Linked DNA regions of Homo sapiens: region 2 is linked to region 1. A link means that fine-mapping ties the variant in region 1 to the expression of a gene that starts in the linked region. Tissue or cell type: whole blood. Region 1 holds a variant in brackets; the other region holds the start of a gene. All regions are shown on one strand. Distances are from middle to middle.

What was found. PIP is the estimated chance that this variant, and not a neighbour inherited with it, causes the effect.
Region 2: it holds the start of ACP3, and the variant in region 1 is fine-mapped to the expression of ACP3 in whole blood (INTERVAL, PIP 0.95).

Annotation. Positions count from the first base shown.
Region 1 is chr3:132,345,130-132,351,208 of GRCh38, forward strand. It overlaps ACP3 (acid phosphatase 3), which reads left to right. Exons shown (of 10, transcript NM_001099.5): 8 at 4,791-4,873. Among named protein-coding and RNA genes, the nearest start is that of ACP3, 31 kb to the left of the region's middle. The variant T/C (reference allele first, on the strand shown) is at 3,420.
Region 2 is chr3:132,314,346-132,320,424 of GRCh38, forward strand. ACP3 (acid phosphatase 3) reads left to right here and starts at 3,062. Exons shown (of 10, transcript NM_001099.5): 1 at 3,062-3,231. The coding sequence starts at 3,112.

The DNA of each region.
Region 1 (6,079 bases):
CACTAATCAACTGTGTGATCTCAGACAGTTCACTTAATCACTCTTGCACCAGCTTCCATTCTGCAAAATGGGGATATTAATGATACCTACTTCATAGACAGTGAGTATTAAAATGAATGTATGTATTCAAATGGCTTAGAGCAAACAGTACCTGGTACATAATACACTGTCAATAAATGTCATATGTTAGTATAATCATAACTATTACTCACTCAAGCCCTTAGTTTTCTATCTGGAAAATGAAAGCTAAAGCTAAATGATCCTTTCCATCCCCTCCAGATCAAAAATCAAGGATCTGTGTCTGAGCCACATGAAAATCAATTGTGTCTTGTGGCCTATATGATGAATTTTTCAAGTGGGAGGTATGACAAAAGTGGCCTGTTTTCCTGAAACCCTGAGTGGTAGTCATTGTGAAAGCCGATAAAATATATTTTTCAGGCTAATTGTTATATTTTTCAGACCAATTATGTGCTGTTAAAATATGTTGCAATTGACAAGTTTATAACACAGCTTGAAATTTTTCATTGACATTGAAAGCTGTTGAGATTTATTTATCAGTGATGCCTCTTCTTGGTTAGAACTGGCTCTTCGTAGCACAGGACACCCTGTCATATGAAGGCAGACCCAGGCAAGAGGATGCTGGATTCTTGTAATCAGGATAAGTGGATGGAAGAAAAAAGTCAGGACCAGCAAAGACAAGGACAGATGTTGGGGCTTATGAGAGAAACTGGATGGGCAGGCCAAGATACCAAATGAGGTGTCAGACTTAGATGTGGTTATCATAGGTATTAAAACTAGGGATAAAGAAGAAGAGAAAGTTCATCATGTCAGGTTGACGTAATGAGGAAAGTCCAAGCCACAGGAGATGGTCCAAGTCAGGCTGACACACATATTCAAGGCATTTTGAGATTAATACAATCACATCATGATTCCAGCCATTGACAGACACTATTCACCACAGCATCAGGACAAGTCCATCAAAATCCCAAGAGAATGCATAGAGGCAAAGCATATTAGGGCTGGACCAGACTGGGAGGTTGTTCACTGAGGCTACTTAACTAGGGAAAAAATTCAAATCACTGACCAGAAAAGGAATCAATTATAGCTAGAAAAGCAGGGCTGCACACCAGGTATAAAGAGTGAGGCAAGCTGTAACCAGGGGAATGAGGTATGAAACCAGGATGGTCAGGAGCAAATTCATGTGAGATGAATAAAGTAGGTTGGGGCAAAAAATTTAGGACAGTGGCCATTAACGACATGAGGTTGTTGTAGATCTGCTATTACAAAAATCCTGATTGCATGGCACAGAGACAGACTTGATAGAAATGTGCAAGTCCTTACTTCACATTAAACACATGAGCAACAAGATCCAGCCTTGAGGAAGGGAGAGTCTCCAGAGAGGAGTCTTAGATGGAAGCTGGAGTGTTGGAAAAAATTACCAGGCGGGATACAGACTGTGTCTATGGGCAGAACCCAGGAAGAAGCTCAATCTTAAGTGCTTAACAACAAAAGATGTAGAGGGTGCCTTGGAAGCCACATAAGCACTCAGCCTCATTTCTGGCCCACCAGGTGCCAGCAGTGTGACTCAGTTGCAAGCCCCATCAAATGGTGGAAGCGGGACTCTTGATTTATTTCCCCCAACCTAGTTATGGTGGATTCAGGCACCTAGTCCCTCACAACTCAAAGTGCAGTCTACTTTTCAGCATCGGCATCAACTACCACCTGGCTAGAAACACAGGCCCCACTCCCAAACGAGTTGAATCAGGATCTGCATTTGAATAAAATCCCAACATGCTTTATACCAGACAGGAGTTGACAGTAGTCTAATAGTAGATGTAGGGATGTGTATGTATGAATAAGAAATGGAGTTGCTCCACTTTCCTCATGTTTCCTCTTTTATTTCCCTTGCCTACTAGAAGATTACATTTGGGAGAAGCCACTTCCCCTCTCTGGATCTCTGTTTCACTACCTATGAGGAGATTAAACTAGACTGTCTATAAGAGTCCTTCTCTGAGTTGTTCTCTGATCTTGGATTCTAAAGGCTGGCACTTGTATGAAACCAGCTGTCCTGCTTTCTGGAAAAAGTCCAGCGCCATTGTTAAGCAGGAAAATTTCTCCTGTGTGGTTCTGCCAAAACAAAAGCTCAGACTATTATTCAGATCTGGCTGGGCAAGAGAGATTTGTCAACTACATGTTTATTGAATGATGAAACAGCTGCACACATTCCTGCACAGAAAACACACATTGTCTAGGTGACAAAGAGTAATGTGGACACATCAGGGCCATCTTCTGACCTTTGCTAGTTTTTTTGTTAGTTTGTTTTGTTTTTGTTTCTTTGTATTTTTTGTTTGTTTTTGTGTCTGTTTTTGAGACAGGGTCTCATTCTGTCCTCCAGGCTGGAGTGCAGCAGCATGATCACGGCTCACTGTAGCCTTGACCTCCCAGGCTCAAGCGATCCTCCCACCTCAGACTCCCAAGTAGCTGGGACTACAGTCATGCACCACCATGCCCAGCTAAATTTTTTTTAAATTTTTTGCAAAGACAGGGTCTCCTTATGTTGCCCAGGCTAGTCTTGAACTCCTGGGCTCAAGCGATCCTCCACCTTGGCCTCCCAAAGTTCTGGGATTATAGGCATGAACTACTGTGCCCAGTCTAGAATTTTTATTTCATCATTTAACTTCAGGGGTGACACTGTTCAGTAAGACACACACACATACACACACACACACACACACACACACACCAAAAAAATCCCTGGGGCAAATTTAGGATCATATGGCTGGTCATATCAGTGAAAAGAGAGCTCTTCTTGCTCTAGGCCAGAGGTTGGCAAACTACTGCCTGTATGCCTAATCCAGCCCACTACCTGGTTTTGTAAATAAAGTTTTATTGAAATACAGCCACACTCATTCATTTATGCATTGTCTATTGCTGCTTTCATGCTACCACCGCAGAGCTGAGTAGTTGCAACAGATTTTTTAACCCACAAAGCCTAAGACATTTACTCTCTGGACTTTTACAGAAAAGTTTGCCAACCTCTGCTGTAGACTAGAAATGAAGGAAGCAAAGTTTATGTCTTCAGGTCAATGATATTTTTGTCTAGTTTACGAAGATTTAATAAAGGATACAACAGATAACTTTGAAGCTAGCTTTCCACGATAGCATGTTCTAATGATTACAAATAAAGGTTTTGACACAGGACATGCTAGATTTAAAGCCCTCCTTCTCTGCTTGCAAGTTGTATAATCTAATCAAGTTTCTGAGCCTCTCCAAGCCTCAGTTTCCCCTATAAAACAGAATATTGATATGCCAGAGCCTGAGGATAATCATGATAGTCACCCCTAATCACTCCTGGGATAAGGGTGTAATCATACCAGAACCAAGAACTGATATATTCATGACCAAAACTGCAGCCTGAC[T/C]AAAAGGCACTTGTTGACAAAGGGCAACTTGCTGATTTCAGGTGGCTGTCATGGCTCCCAAAAGCTTGGCCACAGAGTTTAGCACCAACATGGCATGTGAATCAAGCTAAAGTCCCTAATGCATTCCACAGGGCAACCCTCTCTGAGATGGAGGGATTTAGACCTGTTAGACATGTACATTCAGATTATCCTATTCATCCTCAAGGAATTTCCAGTATCTTATAGAAAGAGCAGATACCTACCTCCTTAATTAACCCTTTTTTATACTTACTGGTGTACAGACCTGTCTCTTCTTACTATTTTATGAGTTTTTGGAGGGCAGGGACCAGGTCTGATTCTCCTAGCACAGTATCTGGCGCATCATAGCTGCTCAGTGTGTGTTTGTTGAGTGGACTACAGAACCTGAGATTATAGTCAATCTGTTAATATCAATGCCCTGCTCATTACAACTCACACACACACACACCCTAACACACCCTACTGGTCATTCTCAGCCAAGAGAGCACATGATGCAGGGTAAAGAGACCAACAGAGACACCAGATAGTTACAGACATCTCTGAAGCAACATGTCCTTAAAACAGGATCTGTTTTGGCACCACAAGGTACCCCACAGCCCTCAGTGCCTAGAAATAGGATAAATACTGTAAGCTCTATATCTGTCTTTCACCACCTCAGGAGCAACAGCAGTTAGGTGTTCAGATGTGAAGTGTGAAGAGCAAAAGTTTCCTCTACTGAAGACAGACAGAAACTCAAATGAAAGCTAAAGATGCTGGCTGTCCCCCCAATAGTGACACCTAGGGTAACCTGGAGAAATGGTCCACAGAGAATAGTCCATGATCTGTACAAACATCCAGAGAGCTGCTTTCTCCCATGGCCTCCCACAGGTCTGACTGCCAGAGAGTAGAAGCAAGAGGGGTGAAAATAGAGGAGTACCTGCTGTGCTGTCATTTCAGGTCTGCTCTGGAGAAGAACATGGGCTAAGAATTATCTTTTATGATCTGAAAAAGCTGTCTGAAGTTCCTTCCAAGCTTATCAGCCTCCTAACCTGAGCTTTAACAAAACCCGGTATGGTAGAGTCCTAGTGTGCCAATCCAGCTTTCCTTACCTGGCTGTGTGAGTCACTTAATATCTTTGGACTTAAGATTCCTTACCTAAAAATGAGGGTTGAGACGTAGGATTCAGTTTAAAAAAAAAAAAGTATGTAAATCACATTACCTAGCACAGAGCAGATGCTCAATAAAATTAGATCTTTGCCCCTCTTCTTAAGTCATGGCAGGGAGAGTCCGCAACTATGAAGTGACAAAAAGCTAATGAACTAAAATAGAAGCTTATGTTTGGTTCAGTTTGGTTATTGATTCATCTTCTTTAAGGTGTCCTGGTCAATGAAATCCTCAATCACATGAAGAGAGCAACTCAGATACCAAGCTACAAAAAACTCATCATGTATTCTGCGGTAAGTATTTTCATCTTCATTTAACATATGTTTGTTCAAGTGTGTGATCTCTTGAAGCACAGGACCTCATCTTTTTTTAATCTTCATTTCCCCATCTCCTTGTACGTGGTAGGCACTTGCACAAAGCTTTTAGAATTAAATGCATCATTCTGTCCTTTAAGGGATTTATAATCTAAACTAACAAGAAGACAAACATAAACACTATACAAAATGGGATGGAAATACCATGCAGGCAAGTGCTATGGCACCTCAGAAAATCTAGCCATCCCTTCTGTTCCAAGAGGGTGGAGAAGAGAAGCAGAAAGGCTTCCTAGACAAGGCAGCACATCCAACACATCAAAATGAAAGGGGTTAGTAAGTGCTCCTCACTAGTGTGTAGGACAAATAAAGTAAATTATTAGGACAGAAGTGGAAGGCCAGGAATGTTGTGTCCAAAAAGTGGTACCAAATTAGTGGATGTTAACTGTGCTGCTCAATATGGAACCTAGTAGCCAGAAGTAGCTACTTACATTTAAATTAATTATGATTAAGTAGAATGAAAAATTAAGTCCCTCGGTTGTATTAGCCACATTTCAGGTGTTCAATAGCCATATATAGCCAGTGGCTACTGAATTGGAGAGCACAGATATACAACATCTCCATCATCATGGAAGGTTTTTTAGATAGCCCTGATATGGAGTGTCAGAAGTTTATGCTGGATGGCAGCTGAAGGGCCATGTTGTCCTGCTGCTTCTTTGTTTAATTGTAGAAAGAAGCAAGGAAGCAAGGGAGAACCCCCCTGTCAGTGTTTGCTCAGGGAAGGCAGGGCAGGAGTGACAGGATAGGAGCAGCATTTTGGAAATTAATTATTTTATAGAATAACTGGATGTTGGGAACAGGATATGGTGTAGAAAGCTTTTGTGATAGTCTAGAAAAATGGGGATATGGCCTAAAATTAGGGCAGCGGCAGGAGAGGAAAAGAAGTGAGCCAGGTTACAAGAAAAGCTGAGTGTGCATTCTCAGTGATGAATTGGAAGTGGGTGGAAGACAATGATGTGGAAGGTGAAGCCCCAGATGAAGTCAAGATTTCAGTTTTCAGTGGCAGGAAGGAGGTGGTCTTGGGCCAGGCAAATGTACTGATTAGGCAATGGGTTTGAAATGCCACAGGGGCATCCCAGCAGAAAACTTCAGATGGCAAAGAGAATAGAAGGAGGAAAGGGAAGAAGG
Region 2 (6,079 bases), 31 kb before region 1:
AAGATGTGCCTTTGCTTCTCCTTCACCTTCCATCATGATTGTGAGGCCTCCCCAGCCATGTGGAACTTTGAGTCCATTAAATTTATTTTTCTTTATAAATTACCCAGTCTTAGGTATTTCTTCAAAGCAGTATGAACGTGGACTAATACATACTATATCCATATATTTATCCCAGATGACCCTTATGTCTTTGCAAAGACCTTATTGAGTTCAAAGTTCAAGGTGCCACAGAACATTCTAAAACAGGTTTCATCTGAGTTGAGGATCTTTTACACTCCATTTCATGGTGTTCAGGTTTTTCAAGACTCTACATTTATGACTTTGAATACTTCTTCTCCCCTTATAACTGAATGATCAAAGTGGAAGTGAGGATGATGATTGAGATAGAAGTATAAACCATTTAATTCAACTTGGATTAAGTTTGAGTTGAGATGTATTCAATTCAAGCAGGCTTTTTCTGGTTTTCAAAGAAAACTTTGTTGTTGTTGCCCTTCTCACTTGAAGAGCTAAAAGGACCCCACAGGCGGTACCACAGAAAAAATTAGGGTCTAGGTCAGAAAGAGGGTTTATCCAACCAGTGCAACATGGTATAGGTAGATTATAAAATCAGTCTTCATTATCAGGAAGGTCTAAGGCTATTGCTGAAATAGTTCCAAGCACCAGTCCAAGGGTGAGACAAGGAAGGAGATAGAACAAGGACCCAGGCAGATAGCTGAGAAAATAAGGCATTCAATAGAAGCAGACATCTGGCACAATTTAAGAAATGTGGTTCAGAAATTTGCCTGTGAATGGTACATAGGTGCTGGAGCTTCCTTTCTCAGATTGCCTGGTGCACACAGCAGGGATTAATGTATCAACTTCATGTATGCCCTGGACTGGAAAACCTCCCAATTTTTATTTCCTTTTTCTTGCACCCATTTCCTCAAAATCTTACTCATTAAAATTGACAGTGTAGACTGGCAGGTCGAGAATGTGATGGCAAAGAGAAAGTTGCAAGTTCCCTTGAATGGTTAATCCTAATCACACATGCATTTATTATTTGCACATTTTTTTTTTTTTTTGGAGGGGGGACAGAGTCTCACTCTATTGCCCAGGCTAGAGTGCAGTGGTGTGATCTCAGCTCACTGCAACCTCAGCCTCCCGGATTCAAGTGATTCTCCTGCCCCAGCCTCCCAGGTAGCTGGGATTACAGGCTCCCACCACCACACCTGGCTAATTTTTGTATTTTTAGTAGATATGGGGTTTCACCACATTGACCAGGCTGGTCTCGAACTCCTGATCTCAAGTGATCTGCCCACCTCAGCCTCCCAAAGTGGTGGGATTACAGGCGTGAGCCACCATGCCCAGCCTATTTGCGCATGTTTCCTACTGCCGGAAGAAGGAACAGTTCTCCCATATACCACATTCCAGGGCATCCTATGATCACATAAGAACACAATCCTCCTGCCACAGGTAAGCGCAATGTACCAGGAAACAGGTTGCGGGTAAACCATTGTTCTCCCTCTGCCATTATGATAGAAATATCATGACAGGCAGCTCTGCCCCCAAATCTTGCAAAATCTCAATGTGCACCTCAAGTTTGTATTGTTTTAGCCTATGATGGAACTGACAGGTTGGGGAAAATGGAAAGCAAAGTTCCATCAGTCTGGATCGCCTTTTGTAGTGTCCCCAGTGAGATCATAGCTGGAGAGGCAAGGATGTAACTCACTCAAAATTTAAGGCTTATGGCCAAAGTTGATGACTAATAATATAGAATTGTAGGTTTGGGCTTTTTGCTTTCTTAAAAAACTCTGTCAGGTTTGGAAAGGGACCTCCAATCTAATTTTGAGATACCACAGGTAATGTCCAATTGTCTTAAGGTGTGACTAAAATTTTTCTTTTGTTTGTTTTTTGTTGTTGTTTGTTTGTTTTGCTGTGTTTTGAGATGGAGTCTTGCTCTGTCACTCAGGCTGGAGTGCAGTGGCACAATCTCGGCTCACTGCAACCTCCACCTCCTGGGTTCAAGTGACTCTCCTGCCTCGCCTCCCAGGTAGCTGGGACTATAGGCATGTGCCACCACGCCAGGCTAATTTTTTTTTTTTGTATTTTTAGTAGAGATGGGGTTTCACCATGCTGGCCAGGCTGGTCTTAACTCCTGACCTCAAGTGATCTGCCCACCTCGGCCTCCCAAAGTGCTGGGATTACAGACATGAGCCACCACGCCCAGCCTAAAATTTTTCAAAATAAACTTGCTGTTACTTTTCTTCTTTAATTTAAAAATACCTCTATAGGCTACATGAGAGTTTTTGAAAAAGTAGCCATGTTTGGCATGGAAATAGGCCCCAAATATGTCAACACCTGTATTTCCTTCCAGATTTCAGTCCTATAACTTTGGACTCCCAACAGATTAAGAATCACTGGTCTAAGGTTTCTAAAGTCAGGGTAGATCCCTTTCCCAAGTGACAGCCACAAATCCAACGCTGTATCATACCCTATCTAAAGAAAAGATAAAAGTAAACTGGCTTGGCACAGTGGCTCATGCCTGTAATCTCAGCACTTTGGGAGGCCAAGGCAGGCGGATCATGCGGTTAGGAGTTGGAGACCAGCCTAACCAACATGGTGAAACCCCGTCTCTACTAAAAATACAAAAATTCGCCGGGTGTGGTGGTGCACGCCTGTAATCCCAGCTACTCAGGAAGACTGAAGCAGGAGAATTGCTTGAACCTGGGAGGCGGAGTTTGCAGTGAGCTGAGATTGTGCCACTGTGCTCCAGCCTGGATGACAGAGCAAGACTCTGTCTCAAAAAAAAAAAAACAAAAAACAAAGATAAAAGTAAACTGAAAACAAGGATAGAAATGTCTGCTAACATGCTCTGTGACCTTGATCAACAGCTTTCCCCGCTCTTGGCCTTGGTGTCCTAACTTAAATGGGGAAACTGTGATCTCTCTCAGCTCAAAATTTACATGACATTATTTACATACCAAACCTGCCCTACGCTTCCTGGAAACTTTACTACTTATGAGTGTGGCTCCTCCTTCCCTTTCAATCCCTTAATTAAATAGCTTCCCCTCTACAGGCTTTTGAAGTGGTAGCAGTTCCTCCTAACTCCTGCCAGAAACAGCTCTCCTCAACATGAGAGCTGCACCCCTCCTCCTGGCCAGGGCAGCAAGCCTTAGCCTTGGCTTCTTGTTTCTGCTTTTTTTCTGGCTAGACCGAAGTGTACTAGCCAAGGAGTTGAAGTTTGTGACTTTGGTAAGTAGACTTTTCTCATTGCTTTTTCCTTAAAACTGTGTTCCCAGCAAAGTCTGATAAGGCAAGCGTCAGGTTTCATCTTATCCTTGGATTGTTTCCCAGAGACCAGGCTCTGTTCAAACTCAGAAAGTGAATAATCAAGTTTTGCAAGTTCCTCTTAATGAAGACCTAACGTGTCCTAACAAAAATATTTTTTGGTCGCTGTTTTTTTAGGGGTTGCTTTTTATTTGCTTTTGCTGATGTTATTTATTTACTTACTTTACAACTGCCTTGAATTCAGATTCCTTTTGACAGCCACACCAGTCCAGAAGAAACCACAGCTGGCGCTGTTTATGTACCAAGAGCTGGCTTCATTCAATTTAATCATTATTTGTTTGCAAGCCAAAAAACAGTCATTTTCTGAATTAAGTAGTCCTTTCACCTTTGTTTATCAGGAAATTAGAACAACTATTTGTAAACAACCTTGAAGCATAAAAGTGAATCTAAATTTGGAATTTTAGGATGATTTTCTGATATATAGATTTAGTTGACGATTAAAATCATTGGCACATGTGACCAGTTATGAAAAAAGGTGGGGGGTGGCTGATGCATAATATCAAGAAAAGAAAATATACTGTTGACATTGTTTGAAAATAGATGGAAAGAGGGTTTGCAAAGTGAAGGGGATTCATCATGTTACCTAAGAGTCTGATTTTCTGTTTCTGTATCTTTTTTTCCTTCTGTTTCACTCTTTCTCTGCCTCTAAGCCTCTAAGCTGCTTCTTGCCTTTCCTCTCTCGTTTTCTTTCTCTTCCCTACATTTTTTTATTTGAGATAGTGAAAGTGGGCTGATAAGTAGGTAAATTTTCTTTCTGTCAAGAATACTCAAAAATTATTTTTATAATTTGAAGGAAAGTCACTGTTTCCTTAAAAATTAAAGTTCAGGCTTTTTTTTTTTTCAGCATGGGATATTCAAAGCTCTTTACTTTCTACAGAAAATATGATACCCATGTGCTTATTTGAATCATTATTCTTATAGTCCAGTAAATCCTTACTAGGTCATGAGTCAACAATGACAGAAAACCCAGTGAAACAAACTATCAATTTATTTACAAATGATTCACCAGCTGTCAGACTTCTGTGCAGAAAAAAAATATATAATACTGTGTGCCTTCTTTAGGGAAACCCATGTGAGCTAGGCTTGTACTTCTATCAGTAGTTTTCTTGCTAACATGTGCATGAGGCAAGTTTAGGGACTGTAGAAATTGTACTGCATCTGCCGTGCTTGTAATACTGTAAACCTGTGACAAGCTGGTTGAGTGGCAGTCCTCTGAGAAATCCAAGTTACTCCAAGCTCACTGTACATGATGTATTCCCTCCTCCATGTTTTACCCAAGTTAGCCCAGGCTAACTTCCTTTGACTACCAAATTGTTGTGGGTTTCCTATATTCAGGGACTGCAAGTTAATTCTTTCCTGAGGAAAGCCAAAATACAAAGCTAGCTCTCTTAGAACTAAAAAAATTAACAAATATTGCACAAAGCCAGTGTTAACTATTTTTTCCTACCATGATTTCCTTCCATTAATGGTAGATGAAGGGCCATTTAATACATCTTTCTTGGCCCTTATAAAACAACGTCCATCTAAGTACTTAAGCCAATAAACATCAGTTTCTTATTTTTATTGACTAAAGAGAATATTTGACTATAAGTGGTTAATTTATACAAATGAGATAACTCTTAGAAAATTATTAGGAGAACCAGAATTGTTTTAAAAGATGCCCATAACTAAAGTGGTAATATTAATGATAATAACCAATAGTCAATTGAGTGCTTACTGCAAGTACTTACTGCAATTGAGTGCTTACAAGGCACTGTTCTGAGTGTTCAATATGAATTGTATCACATAAGCCTGTCAACAATCCTCTAAAATAAGGTCGTTAAATAAAATATGGGATGACCATTTGAATTTGAACTTCAGATAAATAGCAAATAATTTTTTAGTCCCATGCAATATTTGGGCATCCTGTATGTTTATTTGCCAAATCTGGCAACCATTCTATAAAGTTTTGTAAAACTTATTATTCCTATTTTATAGATGAAGAAATTGAGGCACAAAAAGGTTAAGCATCTTGCCCATGGTCACACAGATGGAATGGTGGAGACAGAATTTGAACCCAGGCTCTCTGACCCCGGATGCCTTTCCCTTTATCACTAGACATGGTCTTTTCCTGCTGTGTGTATATAACCCAGCACATGGAGCTAGTCTGAGATCCCCCTGTAAGGTTTGCTGGATTAGCTTGACTCTGAATCAGCAGGTGGTTCCCTTGCTTTTCCTCTGTGATCCGAGAAAAATAAATCCTCCCCAATTCTGAAAAGCTGTTCTCAGCAGAAAGAGGAGGAAACTGTCCTTGGTTCTTGTTCTCGGACTAACTGAAGTGCCTGTGACCCATGAAATGCTAGTTTGACAAGTTGTTAACAGGTGTACATGGGGAAAAAATCAGTTTCAATAGTCAAGTTAGCTTTGGGAATAGAACTGGGTTAAACTGTGTTTAAAAGGTCTCTTTAATGCAGTAATCCTAAGTCTTTAACATGCTAATACGCACTGTGGCTTTCAAGGAAAGGATCTAGTGTTTTCCAAACTCTGTTTTCAAAATTTTGATTACAGCATTCACCTCCCTCTTTTTTTCCCCAATGTCCTGTAGAAAACACTGAGAGAACTGACATTTTTAACTTTATATGGAAAGAATCGTAAATATGGTGAATCTGGATGTCCTCATCAACCAGCTTCAAAGACTATCACCCATGCAATCTTGTTTCATCTGCATAGCCACTCATTTCCCACACACACCCACTTGAGTTTTTTAAGTTAT